Regions from separate parts of the Homo sapiens genome. Here region 2 is linked to region 1. Evidence: fine-mapped expression QTL. Tissue or cell type: cerebellum. Region 1 holds a variant in brackets; the other region holds the start of a gene. All regions are shown on one strand. Distances are between the middles of the regions.

Region 1 (8,000 bases):
GCAGTATTGCTTGAGGCCAGGAGTTTGAGACCCACCTGGGCAACATGGCCAGACCCCATCTCTTAAAAAAAAAAAAAAAAAAGACACCTCTGCACTAGGATCTGTACTAGGCATCTATGGACATCCTGCTGCCTGGAGGGTAGAAGAGCCCCCTGGCTGCTCCCTACACACTGCCTCCACTGCATTGCCTGTGTGTCTGGCAGCAGGTGGGGTGGGCTCTGGTGGCCTTTTGAAGATGAGCAGTGGTGCAAGTCCTGACTTCCCTCCCCCTGGCCTGCTCTGACACCACCCAGCTGGGAGCGGGGGTGGCAGTTCAGACTCCTTCACTCAGTCTTTGCTGGCCTGGCTGGTTTTCGGCTGGAGTAGAGCAGTTACTGTCTGAAAGCTTTCCATCTTGCTAGGCAACCCCTTTTCTGGTCCTCTGGCTAGAGAGAACTGGCTTCTGTTAGTGCGTGTATTGTCTGTACCCATTGGCACTGCGTGCTTGCTGACTTCTTCAGCTCCAAGTCTGGGCCAGGGTACGTAGCACTGTGTTACTTCTTGGGTCTCTAGGTCCCTTGTTGGTCTTCCTTCTCTCTGCCTTCCAGAGTCTTCTTATGTCTTTTATATAATGTCCAGATATATATATAATTTTTTATATAATGTCCAGATAATATTTTTATGTAACGTCCAGAGCTTTTAGTTGTACTTATTGGGAAGAATTGGGACAAGTACATCTACTCCATCTTCCTGAAAGTAAATGCTCTAAGTATTTTTCTAAATGGTGATTTTTTTCCCCCTAAGAACATTAAAGTGGGTGAAAAAATATTGAAAATTGAGAAGTAGGTATGTTAAAACTCACAGCACTATTTTAGGCTTAAATATTTCATATACCAAAAACATGATTTATTATAATTTTATTTTCCTGGCTTTAATGGAAGCAAACTCATCAAAACATATTTTTCCAAGTCTACTTCTAGAGAAAGAATAACCGCTAAAAAGACACCAGCAGGGCACAGTGGCTCACACCTGTAATCCCAGCAATTTGGGAGGCTGAGGCAGGAAGATCATTTGAGCTCAGGAGTTTGAGCCCAGCCTGGGCAATAGAGTGAGATTTTGTCTTTAGTAAAAATAAATGAAAATTAGCCAGGTATGAGGGTGTGCAACTCTAGCCCCAGCTACTCAGAGGCTGAGGCAGGGAGATTGCTTGAGCCCGTGAGGTCGAGGCTGCAGTGAGCTACGATCATGCCACTTCACTCCAGCCTGGACAAAAGAGCAAGACCCTGTCTCAAAAAAAGAAATTTAAAAAATACAATAAATAAAAATGAAAAAATACACCAAAAAATACATGGGGCACACATGATTACTTATGCATGAGCCTTCTATATGGTGGGGCACAGCTCTGTTGGATCCTGTCTTTATTTAAAGTTTCATTCATTGTGGATATTTTTTGCATTAATTTTGATTTTTAAAAAATATTGCATTGAAATATTACTTATTTTGGCTGGGCACGGTGGCTCACGCCTGTAATCCCAGCACTTTGGGAGGCCGAGGCAGGCAGATCGCCTGAGGTCAGGAGTTCGAGATCAGCCTGGCCAACATGGTGAAACCCTCTCTCTATTAAAAATACAAAAATTAGCCAGGCATGGTGTTGGTCACCTGTAATCCCAGCTACTCAGGAGACTGAGGCAGGAGAAATCACTCGAACTCAGGAGGCGGAAGTTGCAGTGAGCCGAGATCGTACCACTGCACTCCAGCCTGGGCGACAGAGTGGGACTGTTTCAAAAAAAAAAAATTGCATTGAAATATTACTTATTTTGATGATTGAGATTTTTGGCCTCCCCTTAAGTTTTGCATGCAAGGTAAGGGCCTCATGGGCCTGGCTGCAGTCCCAGGCTGAGCTAGGCACTCCACAATATTTTGTTTGGGTAAAGTGATGGGTGGGCTCTAGAGCTCCCTCACAGCTGTATCCTTACCTCAAAGGGGCAGATTAACTTAGATTTACAGAAACGACAGCTGAGGAGGTAAATCTGAGTCCCTCTGGAGGTGAAGGTGCTTCTGAGATGGGACCTTCTATAAATAGGTTATAAGAACTTGCAGAAACGAGGGCCCCGTTGGGCACAGGCCGTCCTGCACATACTGAACATTCCACTGGGGTGGGGCCTCTGCTCTCCCACTCCCAGTGCACCTCTGAAAACGAAGGTCCCAGAACCCGCATGCCACCGGGACAGGAAACGGAGCGGCTTCCAGGGCTCATGGGAACTGGTCTAATATTAGCAGTGTTTTTCTCATCTGGCCCTTGGGACGTCTCTATGGGGTAGGTGTTGTTATCACTCATTTCACAGATGAAGCAGCTTGGGCTGCCCCTGGGGAAGAGTGGATGCCTAGCTGTCATCCCAGATCTCTGCGTGTCATCCCGCCCTACCCCATCCTGCCTCACCCTTCATTCTGTGTCCTCTCCTGTGCCAGCTCTGGGCACATACCCAGGAATGCCTGGAACACCTTTCTGCTGCCTAGGCTGTAGGCTCAGACACCCCGAGAACAGCTTGATGTCACTCTATTGCCCATCCCTGGTCAAACACAATGTCCTTCCTCCACCTTCCCACCAGCCTGCCTCCTGCCCCTGGCTATATTTAGGACTTTCTACAGTCTTTGCCACCAACCCCTTCTTAGGGTTTGAAGAGGGGCCACATCAGATATCTTTGGAAACCCATGGCAGGAGTGAGCTTTTCTCTGGGCACCTCTTATTTCCATCCTGTATCCTGGGTCTTTCCCACCTACTCAGGCTTTGGGTAAAAAGGCCAGGCTATTAGAACATCATGGGGGTGGCGAGGCCTGCAGGAGGGTGGCTTACCACCCATTCCGAGAAAAAAAATCCATGCTTGATAAAGCCTCCGGGACTCTAGTGGTAAAGTTATTAGTCAATCTTTCATCAGTGGTTCCTGGCCTTTTTATCCCAAACAACCTTTTATTTTTATCCTCCTAAGGTTTTAGCTTCTCTCCAAATAAAACTTTCTTAAGGACTACTTTTGTAGTTTTTAGGTAGTGAAAGATTCATCTAATATTTCTGATCAGCATGAAATAACCAGTTGCTATACCAAAAGCAAGGAAATTTGATGCTTCATTTATTCTGTAATATTCCATACACGATTTTAAATTATAATAGGCCAGGCGCCGTGGCTCATGCCTGTAATCCCAGGACTTTGGGAGGCCAAGGTGGGCAGATCACTTGAGCTCAGGAGTTTGTGACTAGCCTGAGCAACATAGCAAGACCTCGTCTCTACAAAAAATGCAAAAATTAGCCAGGCATGCTGTCATGCACCTGAAGTCCAAGGTGCTGTGGAGGCTGAGGTGGGAGAATCGATTGAGCCCAGGAGGTCTAGGCTACAGTGAGCCATGATCATACCACTGCACTCTAGCCTGAGTGGCACAGTGAGACCCTGTCTCAAAAACATAAACATAAAATAAAAATAAATAAATTATTACGGGTGCAGTGGCTCATGCCTGTAATCCTAGCACTTTGGGAGGCCGAGGCGGGCAGATCACTTGAGGTCAGGAGTTTGAGACCAGCCTGGCCAACATGGCGAAGCCCTGTCTCTACTAAAAATACAAAAATAAAATAAAATAAAACGAGCTTGGTGTGGTGGCAGGTGCCTGTAATCTCAGCTACTCAGGAGGCTGAGGCAGGAGAATCACTTGAACCCAGGAGGCAGAGATTGCAATGAGCTGAGATCAGGACACTGCACTCCAGCCTGGGTGACAGAGCAAGACTGTCTCAAAAAAATAAATAAATAAAAATAAATGAATAAATTATAACAATAGCTTTAGGTCCCCCATTATCAGGGAAAAGCCTTTAGAGATCATGTTGTCCAGCCCCTTCCTTTTTTAGACAGGAGAACTTACTCAGAGATAATAAGTAAATGACATACAGTTTATACAACAAAACTTCCTTGGGAAATGATGCTTTGCTTTTCCTGGGAGACCATTTAGTGTTAGGGTCAGGAGGAGCTATGGGGAGGTGAGGGCAGCCAGATGCAAGGGGAGTAGAGGTCTGGGCTGTGCCTGAGACTCTCACAGATCCTTCCCCTTCCTGACTTCCCAGGTCTGGTGTGACCTGCGTCAGGTTTCAGGGAGCTGGGCTGCAGACTGCTGATGCTCTAGTGCCTAGACCTGCAGCCTTGCTGTCTTCTCCCACCCCAGCTTGAGGACCAAATACCACTCTCCTCTCTGTTGGAGTGGATTTTTCTCCTAAAACCAAAGGAGGCACTCTTCTTCCCCAATCTGAAGTTTTTGTATTTTGCTATTACAGACCTGCTCTCTGGTCTCTAAATCTGGATTCCCAATGTACCCTGGGTGCCATAGAGTTGGCAGTTACTTTCCTGGGGGAAGAGGGTAGGACTTCAATGTTCTGAAAGTGACAGATCTCCGAGTTCCAGATATGGGTGTTCAGCAAATTTCTCAGTCTCTTCTAACAGGCCCTGCTTTGCAGGTGACCCGGCGCTTTGGGATCCCAGGGCTGAAGAAAATCATGGACTGGTTTGGCTACTATGGAGGCCCCTGCCGCGC[C/A]CCCTTGCAGGAGCTGAGCCCCGCTGAGGAGGAGGCACTGCGCATGGATTTCACCAGCAACGGCTGGCTCTGAGGGCAGGCAGGGTCCATGGCTGGCCTGAGCCCATCTCAGCCTCCTGCCTTGCACTTGCAGCCTGAAGCGGAGAGCACAGGGGGATGAGGGTGGCAGGCAGCGGGGAGCCGATAGAGGCTCCTTTGCCTGCTGTGGTCCTCCAGGCAGCCTTTCACAGGCACGCCCATGCATATCTCCTATTCTAACGGCCCCTGACCTCTCCCTTTTGGATCCTAAACTGTGTCTCTGGTCTGAAGACTGGGAAGGAGCAATTTCTCAATTTATCTTTCTACTGTGGATGCTTTCCTACGCCCTGAGGCACATGAAGTCAGAAAGGAAGGGCAGAGGGGCAAGTAGGCACAGTAAGGGAATTTTCTTTTCTTTTTTTTTTTTTTTGAGACAGAGTTTCACTCTGTCACCCAGGCTGGAGTGCAATGGCATGATCTCGCCTCCTGGGTTCAAGCGATTCTCCTGCCTCAGCCTCCCGAGTAGCTGGGATTACAGGCGCCTGCCACCACGCCCAGCTAATTTTTGTATTTTTAGCAGAGATGGGGTTTCACCGTGTTGGCCAGGCTGGTCTTGAACTCCTGACCTCAGGTGATCCAACTGCCTCGGCCTCCCAAAGTGCTGGGATTACAGCTGTGAGCCACTGCACCCGGCCGGGAATTTATCAAAGGGGGGACTACTTAGATTTGGGGCTTCAAACCTGAGTCTAGCACAATGCAGCTGGAGGCCAGGGCTACTCCTACAAACCCAAGTTCTGACTCCTTCCAGGGAAGTATCAGCTTAAGAAACTTGATCAGGAAAGTGACACTGGTCTTTCAAAGAGCCCTCTTTACCCTCCCATCCCTGCCCTCCACACTGCAAGCTGCATTCCAGCCACAACGCCCTTTTCTAAATCTATTTTCATTCATCTCCTATTCTGGTCTGTAGCCTTGATTCCAACCATTGAATGCACGGAGACAGCCCAGTGGCTTGTCAGATTGGTAAATAATGACACCTGGTGGATAAATGTTACATTCTAGAAGACTATTCTGGTCAGCCTAGGTCTGAAACACTAAGGAGACTTGGCCTGAGATAGGGCCATCCACTTGCCTACAGGCACTCTGCTTTTATTATTAAAAATAGTCACTTTGTTACTATAATAAAATTTAACAGAAAAAATTAGTGTGGCTATATAAAGATGGACACTCTATTGCTATGCAGATCTTAGGTTTCCTGGCCAGATGTCAAGAACCTTTCTAAAGGCAAAAGAGCTCTGATGGTCTGCCTTCTCCCAGCTCGAAGAGTGTCCCCAGCAATACTGAGCCAACAGGCATTCACTTACTGGAGACCTGGGGAAGGGGTAAGAGGCAAAAGAGAGCAAGTGAGCTATTTAGAAACAAACACTTAGCACTTTTATTTTATTTTTTTGAGACAGAGTCTTGCTCTGTCATTCAGGCTGGTGTGCAGTGGCACGATCTCGGCTCACTACAACCTCTGCCTCCCAGATTCAAGTGACTCCCCTGCCTCACCCTCCCGAGTAGCTGGAATTACAGGTGTTCACCACCATGCCCGGCTAATTTTTGTATTTTTAGTAGAGACAGCGTTTCGCCATGTTGGTCAGGCTGGTCTCGAACTCCTGACCTCAGGTGATCTTCCTGCCTCGGCCTCCCAAAGTGCTGGGATTATAGGCGTGAGCCACTGCACCCCTTCAGCATCCTTTTTGATTAAAGTGCTAAGTGTTTAGGGCCAGGCAGCACTTTGGGAGGCGGAGGCAGGAGGATCACATGAGGTCAAGAGTTTGAGACCAGCCTGATCAACACGGCAAACCCCATGTCTACTAAAAATACAAAAATTAGCCGGGCGTGGTGGCACACGCCTGTAATCCCAGCTACTCAGGAGGCTGAGGCACAAGAATCGCTTGAACGTGGGAGGTGGAGGTTGCAATGGGCCGAGATCGTGTCATGGCACTCCAGCCTGTGCCACAAGAGCAAAACTCCATCTCAACAACAACAACAAAAAAGGATGCTTTCTCCAAAATATTTAACCTTTTTCAGTGGTAATATTTGACTAGTGGCAGAAAAATGGAGATACATTGTAAAAAAATTACTCCTTAAAAGAAAGTGTAAGGTTAAAAAGAGAGGTAAATAGATACTTGTTTAGGGCAGAGGCTAAAGGAGAGAAAATAAAAGATCTCAATCTTCAACCCAAAACCAGGCTCTGAATGGCACTACAGCTTGGGGCTTAGTGCCTGGGGTCCTCTCACAGGCAACTTCCAGAGGAGCAAGGCTCAGAGGAGAATCAAGTTTAGGACTTGGGGGAAAAGTTAGGGCTAGGCAGGCAGGGTAGTGCACTGGGTAAGAGCTCAGCCTCTGGGCTTAAACAGGTCTGGGTTTAAGTTCTGGGATCTGCCCCTTAGTGTCTATGGGACCTTGGAGAAACTGCTTAACTTCCCTGAGCCTCATCTGTAATACAGGGATAATAATAGTACCTTCCTCCAACAAGGACGTGCATGTAAAAGGGTTAGCGTGGGGGTCAATGTTCCACCACTCTCCTGTTGCAGAAAAAGGGAAACTCCGGCAGGAGTGGACCTGCCAGAGGTAACCCAGCAGGTGTGGCCATAACTAGTCTCAGGACTTAAGTACTCTGATGCTCAGGGTGAGAGAGGTCCAGTAAAGGGAGCTGGAATCAGAAAGGCTCGGTTACAAATCTCACCCAGCTGTGCTACCTACTAGTTGGGACAGCCTGAGATTGTCTGATTTAAATAAGAAAAAAAAGTTCATACGTCCTCCTCTGTAGAGGCTGAGAAAATTAGATGACTTGATAAAGTGTGCAGGGTCAGTTCCAAGGGCTAACCCGATTAACTTTTACAAACAGCAAATGGGTTGATATTCATGAAGACGCAGGGCCAGAAAGTCAGGAAAACTAGGTATAGGCAGTTCTGGTGATTTCTTTATTCTTTATAAACACCTTTTTCTACAGTACAATTCAGAGAATAAATAGAGGCACACGGCTATAACTTCCACCACAATCTGCTGTTGAAGAGACATTCAATGTGAGGCTAGGGAGCTAGAGGTGGGGGACGTATTTGGGTACCAGGGTAACGGGAGGCCTACGTAATAAACTGCAGAGATCCCATCAGTAAGGTCTGATTGCGGCCTGACGGTCAAGGCTCATGATAGAAGAGCTACAGTGAGCCAAATGCTCCTTTAGTTCCCCACAGTCCTAGAGTAGGTCCAATTCTACCAAAACCCCAGGGGTTCGGGTGAGTCTGATTTATTGGTCCACTGGGAAGAAACTGTGTCAGCCCAAGCCATCCGTATGAATTCAGTTCACTCCATGGTAGTGCCTGAAGTGGCCTAAATATTCTACCCTTTTCCCTGGAGTTAGTCACAAATACAAGTAATAAGATTACTGTTTA
Region 2 (8,000 bases), 22 kb before region 1:
ACCTTGTCACTTGGTGCAGATGTGAAGGCATGTGGCTGGGGTCACGTGGCAGCCCAGCCACAGTCCCAGTTCCCTCCAAAGTTTGTTTGTACATTCTCTTCTGGACAAAGCCTCCTTGCCAGAATTAGTTCTCCTGTGACCCCTTGGCTCCTGTGACTCCTGTTGTGGCTCCTGTGACCCCATCTCTCTTTACACATGGGTCTCCCCAACTCTGAGGTTAGGGACCAGATGATATTTGCAACAATCAACATGTAACAGAGTCCCAGGCACAATAAATGAAGGTAGAAGAAAATGTCAAATTCTGCCTGCCCTGCTCCGCCCATCCCCATTCCTTACTGCACAATCCCCTGAGGCAGTGCTCTCTGTAGGACCATCCCACAGATGGGAATCTGGGCCTCAGAGTGACATGGTCACTGCCCAAGGTCATTCGGCTAACACATAGCTGAGCTGAGGTTTGCACCTCGTCTGACTGCATGGCCCATGCTCCATTTTACTCCCTCGCTGACTCTCATTATAAACCCTTTGGAGCTGCTAGGCCACACTATTTCAACGGAGTGTCTGGTCAGCACTAGCTTTGTTGTGGCTGCTATTGAGGCAGTATCGTGTAGACTGTGGACTCTGGTTTCAAATCACAGCTCTGGAGTGAGCGCCTGTAATCCCAACACTTTGGGAGGCCGAGGCGGAGGGATCATGAGGTCAGGAGTTCAAGACCAGCCTGGCCAACATAGTGAAACCCCGTCTCTACTAAAAATGCAAAAATTAGCTGGGCGTGGTGGTGTGTGCCTGTAATCCCAGCTACTCGGGAGACTGAGGCAGGAGAATCGCTTGAACCCGGGAGGCAGAGATTGCAGTGAGCTGAGATCATACCATTGCACTCTAGCCCGGGCGACAGAGCAAGACTCCATCTCAAAAAAAAAAAAAAAAATCAAATCACATCTCTGGCACTGACTTAGTGTGGGATGATTGCTGTCCCTATCGGACACATGGGAGTGATAATGCTCATATTATGGGATGGTTGGACAAAAAAATCTGAGAGAATGCAAGTGAAATCGTGCTATAAATTGTGGAGTAATATACATTGGAAGGTACTGATTCCAATGGTAATAATGATTAAAATGACAGTGTGATTGGCATTGCAGCAAAGCTGCTTTGTGACTGTGACCCCTGGCCTGATGGACACGTTGATCATTCATAGCTCAGTACTGAGGGAATGTGCCCCTTCCTTGGGGACAATGAATGCCCTGTGGAGGGCCACGTTGAGCAGGGCACAACTGTTAGGTTTCTGCTGGTGCTTGGCTCGTGGGGCCTGGAGGTTTGGTGAGGTCCTGGTTCTCTTGAAGTGAGAAGCATTTTGAGCCTCTAAGTGAAGACCTTACTTCAGCTTCAAGGTTCAAGGATGCTCTAGTTCAGGGTGGGGAGGGTGGACTTTGCATCTGGTGTTTGCCTGACACCCAGAGAATCCACAGAGACCCCCAGACTCTTCTCTGGACCCTCCCTTCTGGGCCACCCACCCACTCTTGCAGAGGGCATGGGGTGCCCAGGAGCACAGGCTTCCGTGGATTTAGCAGGCTGTGGGCTGCACATACCCACTTGTCTGTCTCCCTCGCAACCTATGCAGGCTCCAGCTCCCATCTGATCACTCACCCACACACCAGAGAGCCAGCGGGGTGTGGTAGGAAGAGCCCAGCATCTTGAGTTAGAGGACCTGGGCAAGAATCCTGCCACTTCTGCCAGTTAACAGAGACCTTGGGGAAACCACTTAACCTTTCAAATCCAGTCCTCATTTTAGAATAGGAACTGAGCCTTCAGGCTTCTAGCCACAGGGTCAATATAATCCTCCCAAGGCACTGTCACAGAAAACACAGAGATAGAGGGTCCCTTCCCTGCTTCCAGGGTGCAGCCAAAATGCCCAGGAAGGAAGACACAAACAACTTTAGCTCTGAAATCTGTGTTTCTCTTGCCCTGTCCTGGCCCCTGAGGTAGACTTTGCAGCCCAACACTCAGGCTGAGGAGGGAACGTATCACATTGTAAGGGCCTCCTGCAGCCAGTTAAAGGTCCTCTGAAGAGGAGATGAGGGCCAGGCACAGTGGCTTACTCCTGTAATCCCAGCACTTTGGGAGGCCAAGGCAGGAGGATCTCTTGAGACCAGGAGTTGGAGACCAGCCTGGCCAACATAGTGAGACCCTGTCTCTATTAAAACAAATAAATAGGAGGTGGAAAGCTGCCCTGGATGAATCAGTGAAGAGTTAGAGATTCTTCTGGAAAGCACTCCCTGAAACTGTGTAGCTTTTTTTTTTGAGACAGAGTCTTGCTCTGTCGCTCAGGCTGGAGTGCAGTGGCATGATTTGCCTCACTGAAACCTCCGCTTCCTGGGTTCAAGCGATTCTCATGCCTCAGCCTCCTGAGTAGCTGGGATTACAGGTGCCTGCCACCACGCCTGGCTAATTTTTGTATTTTTAGTAGAGATGGGGTTTCACCATGTTGGCCAAGCTGGTCTTGAACTCCTGACCTCACGGTCCGCCGGCCTCGGCCTCCCAAAGTGCTGGGATTACAGGCGTGAGCCACCGCGCTGGGCCTCTTATTTATTTATTTATTTTTAAGATGGGGTCTCAGTCTGCCACCCAGGCTGGACTGCAGTGGCACGATCTCGGCTCACTGCAACCTCTGCCTCCTGGGACTAAAGCAATCTGCCCATCTCAGCCTCCCGAGTAGCTGGGACCAAAGGTGCACACCACTATACCCGGCTAATTTTTTGTATTTTTAGTAGAGATGGGATTTTGCCGTGTTGCCCAGGCTGATCTCGAATTCCTGAGCTCAAGTGATCTGCCTGCCTCTGCCTCCCAAAATGCTGGGATTACAGGCATGAGCCACCATGCCCGGCCCCGTGTAGCTCTTTTTAAAAAATCTTTTTAGCATTGCTAATTTGTACTGATTATTTGAATAGAGAGTATTCTTTTTGTTTTTTCTTTCTTTTTTTTTTTTTTTTGTGATGGAGTCTTGCTCTGTCTCCCAGGCTGCAGTGCAGTGGCACGATCTCGGCTTACTGCAAGCTCTGCCTTCCAGGTTCACGCCATTTTCCTGCCTCAGCCTCCTGAGTAGCTGGGACTACAGGCTCCCACCACCATGCACGGCTAATTTTTTGTGTGTGTGTGTGTATTTTTAGTAGAGATGGGGTTTCACCGTGTTAGCCAGGATGGTCTCAATCTCCTGACCTCGTGATCGTCCGCCTCGGCCTCCCAAAGTGTTGGGATTACAGGCGTGAGCCACAGCGCCCAGCCAAGAGTATTCTTTTTAAATAAAAATTATGACCAGAGACTAGAGGAAGGGGTCATTACAGAAGGGCTCTATGGCCCTGAACTCACACCCATAAACACCCTCAAAGATGGACTTTGAATTGTTATTTCCAAATGAGGTTAGCCAACCACAGAACTAGTCCAGCAGGACTGGGAAGATGAGGTTCTCCATAAAACACTTGTGTCCTATTCCTTCCATACATAGAGTGGACCATGCTTTCTTGCAAAGATATAATATTTTGTATATATTAAAACCATTACTCTGTTAAAGAAAATATTTTGTTTAAAGCATCACAATGTTTACAACCCCATTTTGGCATTTCTTATTTTTTTTTAAATGGGCTAGATGCTTTTGAGGGGAAAAAAAAATACAGTGGCCCAGGCCTGTTTATACCCTGAGAGGCCTTGGAGATTAATTAGGCTTTTAGTTGTCTGCACCTATGGAAAGCCTGGCCAGCCAGCCCACCTGCTCACAACCCGAACCATGCCTATTTATGGGGGGGCAAATTCTGGGTTTGTAGGTGCCTCACTAAGGCAAGAGGTAGCAGCTACCATCCCGGAGTGGCCCCAGGGATCTAGACCCGATGAAGTCTCCTGTCCACTCTGCCTTCTCAGCCCACTGCTTGCCTCTCCACCCTCAGCCCATTGTGACCTCATGTTAGTTACTCCAGAATGAGCTCCTTCCTGGGTTCTTTTCCCTCTGAACTCTGCCCTGTAGTGAGGCGAGGGGCTGCAAATGAGGATGGAATATGCCAGGCTGGCAGCAGACATGGGCACTGGATGGAGGTGCACTGGTCTCAGATGGCTAGGAATGGATACCAGCCCAGTCAAGGGGATCATTCTGTCATGGCCAGCCTGACCCAGCATACTTTGCCCCCTGGGGGCCACCAGATGGGGAGAGAGAGAAACCAAAGACTGGAAGATACAAAGGCCTAAGTTGTAGAATGGATTCCAAGCAGAAGGCAGAAGGACTCAGAATTGGAGAAGCAGCCCTTTCACTGAGCCTGGGGACAGCTGTCAGGGTAGGAGACAGGACCCAGGCCTCAGGCAATGCCTGCCAGGCTAGACATGAGGGATGCTGCGGCCTCTCCCCACCCCACTCTCCCCACCCCACCCGCAACTGCCTTCCTCACAATGGGGTTCATTGTTGAGGTGGTGGGGGGCACCTAGGGAGGGTGCAGCAGGGGGCCTGCCTGTCAGACATCCTTGGGGAGCCTGCCCTTTCAAGCATGAATCATACCACCAGAGATCACCCAGCGTGCTCTTAGCTCTGCCTGCCTGGTGTAGGGTCCTGGAGACCTTCTTGGAGCTCATCCAGCAGCCATCATGCAAGGTGGTGCTGGGGACTGCCCTCTTGCTAGGAGGTGGAGGTCTCATGCTGTGGGTTCAGAGAAAGAGGAGAAGAAAGGAAACCTCTGAGTGTCCATCAGACAAGGACAAGTCACCAGAATCCCATAAAGCAAAGAATGAAAGCTGGATTAAATCCCACTTTAGCCGCCTTTCCGAAGAGAAGCTGGCCCTCGACAACAATGCCAGCGCTAGTGGCAATGCTACCCAGACTGAGAGTGGGAGTGAAGAGGTCAGCTCCACGGTTCACATAGAGACCTTCACCACGAGGCACGGAGAAGTGGGCTCCGCTCTGCACCGGGAATCCTTCACCAGCAGGCAGAAGACATCTGGGCCCTCAGTGATCCAAGAGATCCACCAGGAGTCTGGAAAAGCCCCATCCACTGATGAGGCCACGTGGGCCGCTGTGGCTGCCTGCACCAAGGAGATTGACACCCAGGGGCGGCACCTGGCTCACTCCATGCTGCAGCGGGCCATAGCTTACCAGCACTCAGGTCACCTAGAGTCCAAGGACATCAACCAGGAGGAGCTGAGGGCCCTCGAGGAGGTAGAGATGAAGCTGCAAAAGAATTTCCTCACCCAGCGGGAAAACACCATAGCTGGTGCCAATCACACACACACCTTCTATGGCCACAGTCACCACAGTCACCATGGCCACCCAAGCCACCAGAGCCACAGCCTGCCTAATCGCAGACACTAGATCTGTGACTTCTTGGAAGCCACCTAACCATGGATGGAGACGCCCCTGCCCCCAGCAAGGCTGGCTCACACACACGTCTGTTTTCTCTCCTATGGGGCCATCTATGCAGGCCAGGGTGAGATGCTGTGCCCAAATCCCTACTTTCTTAGGCTCCTCACGGGGATTATGGGCTCTTTAAACTCCATGAGTGGGGTCTGCCACAGAAGATGGCCCCTGTTGGAGGGAGAGCTGGGAGGACACAGCGCAGGTGAGATAGACCCTGAGGCCCCTGAAGACCCACCAAGAGAAGACAGATGGGAGCAGGCAAGAGCCCCACACTGATGTCATTGCCTGGAACGGAGCCAATAAAGCTTTGTGTGCCTTCACTCTGAGTCCAGGGGCTCTGTGGGCAGCCTAAGGTCTGGCAGGGATGGAGGGAGGGGGCTCCCTCTCCAGCAGTCCTCTGGAGTGGAGTGGAGAAAAGGCCCCCGACCTGGGGCCTTTTCACTGGGCCTCATTTAAAGCTCCATAAAACAGCTACCCTGGTCTCAGGTTCTGGAAAAGGGGTACCTCTAGACGTCTCAACACCCCCAATCTGATGTTGCCAGGGAAGAGGGGAGCAGCCAGGTATTGGGCTTGGAGGAGAAACAGGCTTTCAGAGGAGAGTAACTAAGCCAGGTGGGAATGAGGGCCCCTGTCGTCTTGGTGCTATCTTTGCTCTCAAGTCATGTGGCATCCTACAAGGCAGTTCTCTCACCAGCCCCACCTGCTTCCTGGGGCCCCTTGGGATCCATGTTAGTACCTCCCCACCACCTAAGTCTACAGCTACTGAGTGAGCACAACACTTTCTTCTTGTTTGTTTAACTTAATTTAATTTAATTTAATTTAATTTAATTTTAAGTTCTGAGTTACATGGGCAGGATGTTCAGGTTTGTTACATAGGTAAACGTGTGCCATGGTGGTTTGCTGCACCTATCAACACGTCACCTAAGGTATTTATTTAGCCCTGCGTGCATTAGCTATTTAACCTGATCATCTTGGGTTCTTTTTTTTCTTTTCCCTTTTTTTCTTGTTTTTTATGTATGTATATTTTGAGACAGGGTTTCACTCCTGCTGCCTAGGCTGGAGTGCAGAGGCGTGATCACGGCTCACTGCAACCTCTGCCTCTTGGGTTCGAGCGATCCTCCCACCTCAGCTTCCCAAGTAGCTGGGACTGCAGGTGTGTGGAACCACACCTGGCTAATTTTTTTTTTTTCTTTTCTTTCATTTTGTGTGTGTGTGTGTGTGTGTGTGTGTGTGTGTGTGTGTGTGACAGAGTCTCGCTTCATTGCCCAGGCTGGAGTACAGTGGCGCGATCTTGGCTCACTGCAACCTCTGCCTCCCGGGTTCATGCGGTTCTCATGCCTCAGCCTCCCGAGTAGCTAAGGCCAAAGGCACACACCACCATGCCTGGCAAATTTTTTTTGTATTTTTAGTAGAGATGGGGTTTTGCCATGTTGCCCAGGCTGGATTACAGTGGTGATATCATAGTTCACTGCAGCCTCAGACTCAAACTGGCAAAATTCAAATAAAGTCCTTAGTTAATGACATTGTACCAGTGTTAATTCTTTGGTTCTGGTCATCATATTATAGCTAGGTAAGACATTATCATTGGTGGAGGCTGGGTGAAGGATGTATAGAAAATCCCTGTACTTTTTTTTTTTTTTTTTTGAGACGGAGTCTTGCTCTGTGGCCCAGGCTGGAGTGCAGTGGTGCGATCTCGGCTCATTGCAAGCTTCACCTCCCGGGTTCATGCCATTCTCCTGCCTCAGTCTCTCGAGTAGCTGGGACTACAGGCGCCCGCCACCACGCCTGGCTAATTTTTTCCATTTTTAGTAGAGACGGGGTTTCACTGTGTTAGCCAGGATGTTCTCCATCTCCTGACTTCGTGATCCGCCAGCCTCGGCCTCCCAAAGTGCTGAGATTACAGGTGGGAGCCACCGTGCCCAGCCAGAAAATCCCTGTACTATTTTTGAAACTTTTCTGTAAATCTAAAAGTAATTCAATATTTCAAGTTAAAAAAAAAGTTTTCAGACAATTTGATTATGAGTGTGTGTCAAAGTTTGATTATCGTTGTAATGCAAGCAAAATGACCTGTAAGCAGCTAACTCAAATATATACTCTTGGTAAGAATATTTTTATTAAAAAAAGAATGGTCAGGCTGGGCGTGGTGACTCCTGTCTGTAATCCCTGCACTTTGGGAGGCCGAGATGGGCAGATCACTTGAGGTCAGGAGTTTGTGAGACCAGCCTGGACAACCTCGTGAAACCTCGTCTCTACTAAATATGCAAAAATGAGCTGGGCATGGTGGTGCCCACCTTAATCCCAGCTGCTTGGGAGGCTGAGTTGGGAGGATTGCTTGAATCCAGGAGGCGGAGGTTGCAGTGAACAGTGATCGCTCCACTGCACTTTAGCCTGGGCGACAGAGTGAGACTCTGTCTCAAAAAAAAAAAAAAAAAAAAAAGAGAATGGTCAGATCACTCACTGTTAAGACTACGTAAAGACAAAGAAGAGTAGTTAACAGCTTCTAGGCTCTTGCCTGAGAGTTGGCTGGGAGGGTGGCTAATTTTCCAGATCAAGTCTTAATTCCATTAAAGTTCATTGGGGGCCGAACACGGCGGCTCACGCCTGTAATCCCAGC

Alleles and levels. Positions count from the first base shown, and alleles are read on the strand shown. Sizes are in standard deviations (SD) of each study's normalised expression.
In carriers of allele C in region 1, the expression in cerebellum of the gene that starts at base 4,493 in region 2 tends to be higher than with A alone (moderate effect, 0.44 SD a copy in GTEx).

What was found. PIP is the estimated chance that this variant, and not a neighbour inherited with it, causes the effect.
Region 2: it holds the start of C10orf62, and the variant in region 1 is fine-mapped to the expression of C10orf62 in cerebellum (GTEx, PIP above 0.99).

What each region holds. Positions count from the first base shown.
Region 1 is chr10:97,607,042-97,615,041 of GRCh38, forward strand. It overlaps HOGA1 (4-hydroxy-2-oxoglutarate aldolase 1), which reads left to right. Exons shown (of 7, transcript NM_138413.4): 7 at 4,469-5,761. The coding sequence ends at 4,618. It overlaps MORN4 (MORN repeat containing 4), which reads right to left. Exons shown (of 5, transcript NM_178832.4): 5 at 7,514-8,000. Among named protein-coding and RNA genes, the nearest start is that of C10orf62, 21 kb to the left of the region's middle. RefSeq lists enhancers at 1-252, 253-752, 5,285-5,504. The variant C/A (reference allele first, on the strand shown) is at 4,546.
Region 2 is chr10:97,585,229-97,593,228 of GRCh38, forward strand. It overlaps C10orf62 (chromosome 10 open reading frame 62), which reads left to right and starts at 4,493. Exons shown (of 1, transcript NM_001009997.3): 1 at 4,493-5,706. The coding sequence starts at 4,670. The coding sequence ends at 5,341. The region is part of intron 1 of HOGA1 (4-hydroxy-2-oxoglutarate aldolase 1); the gene reads left to right.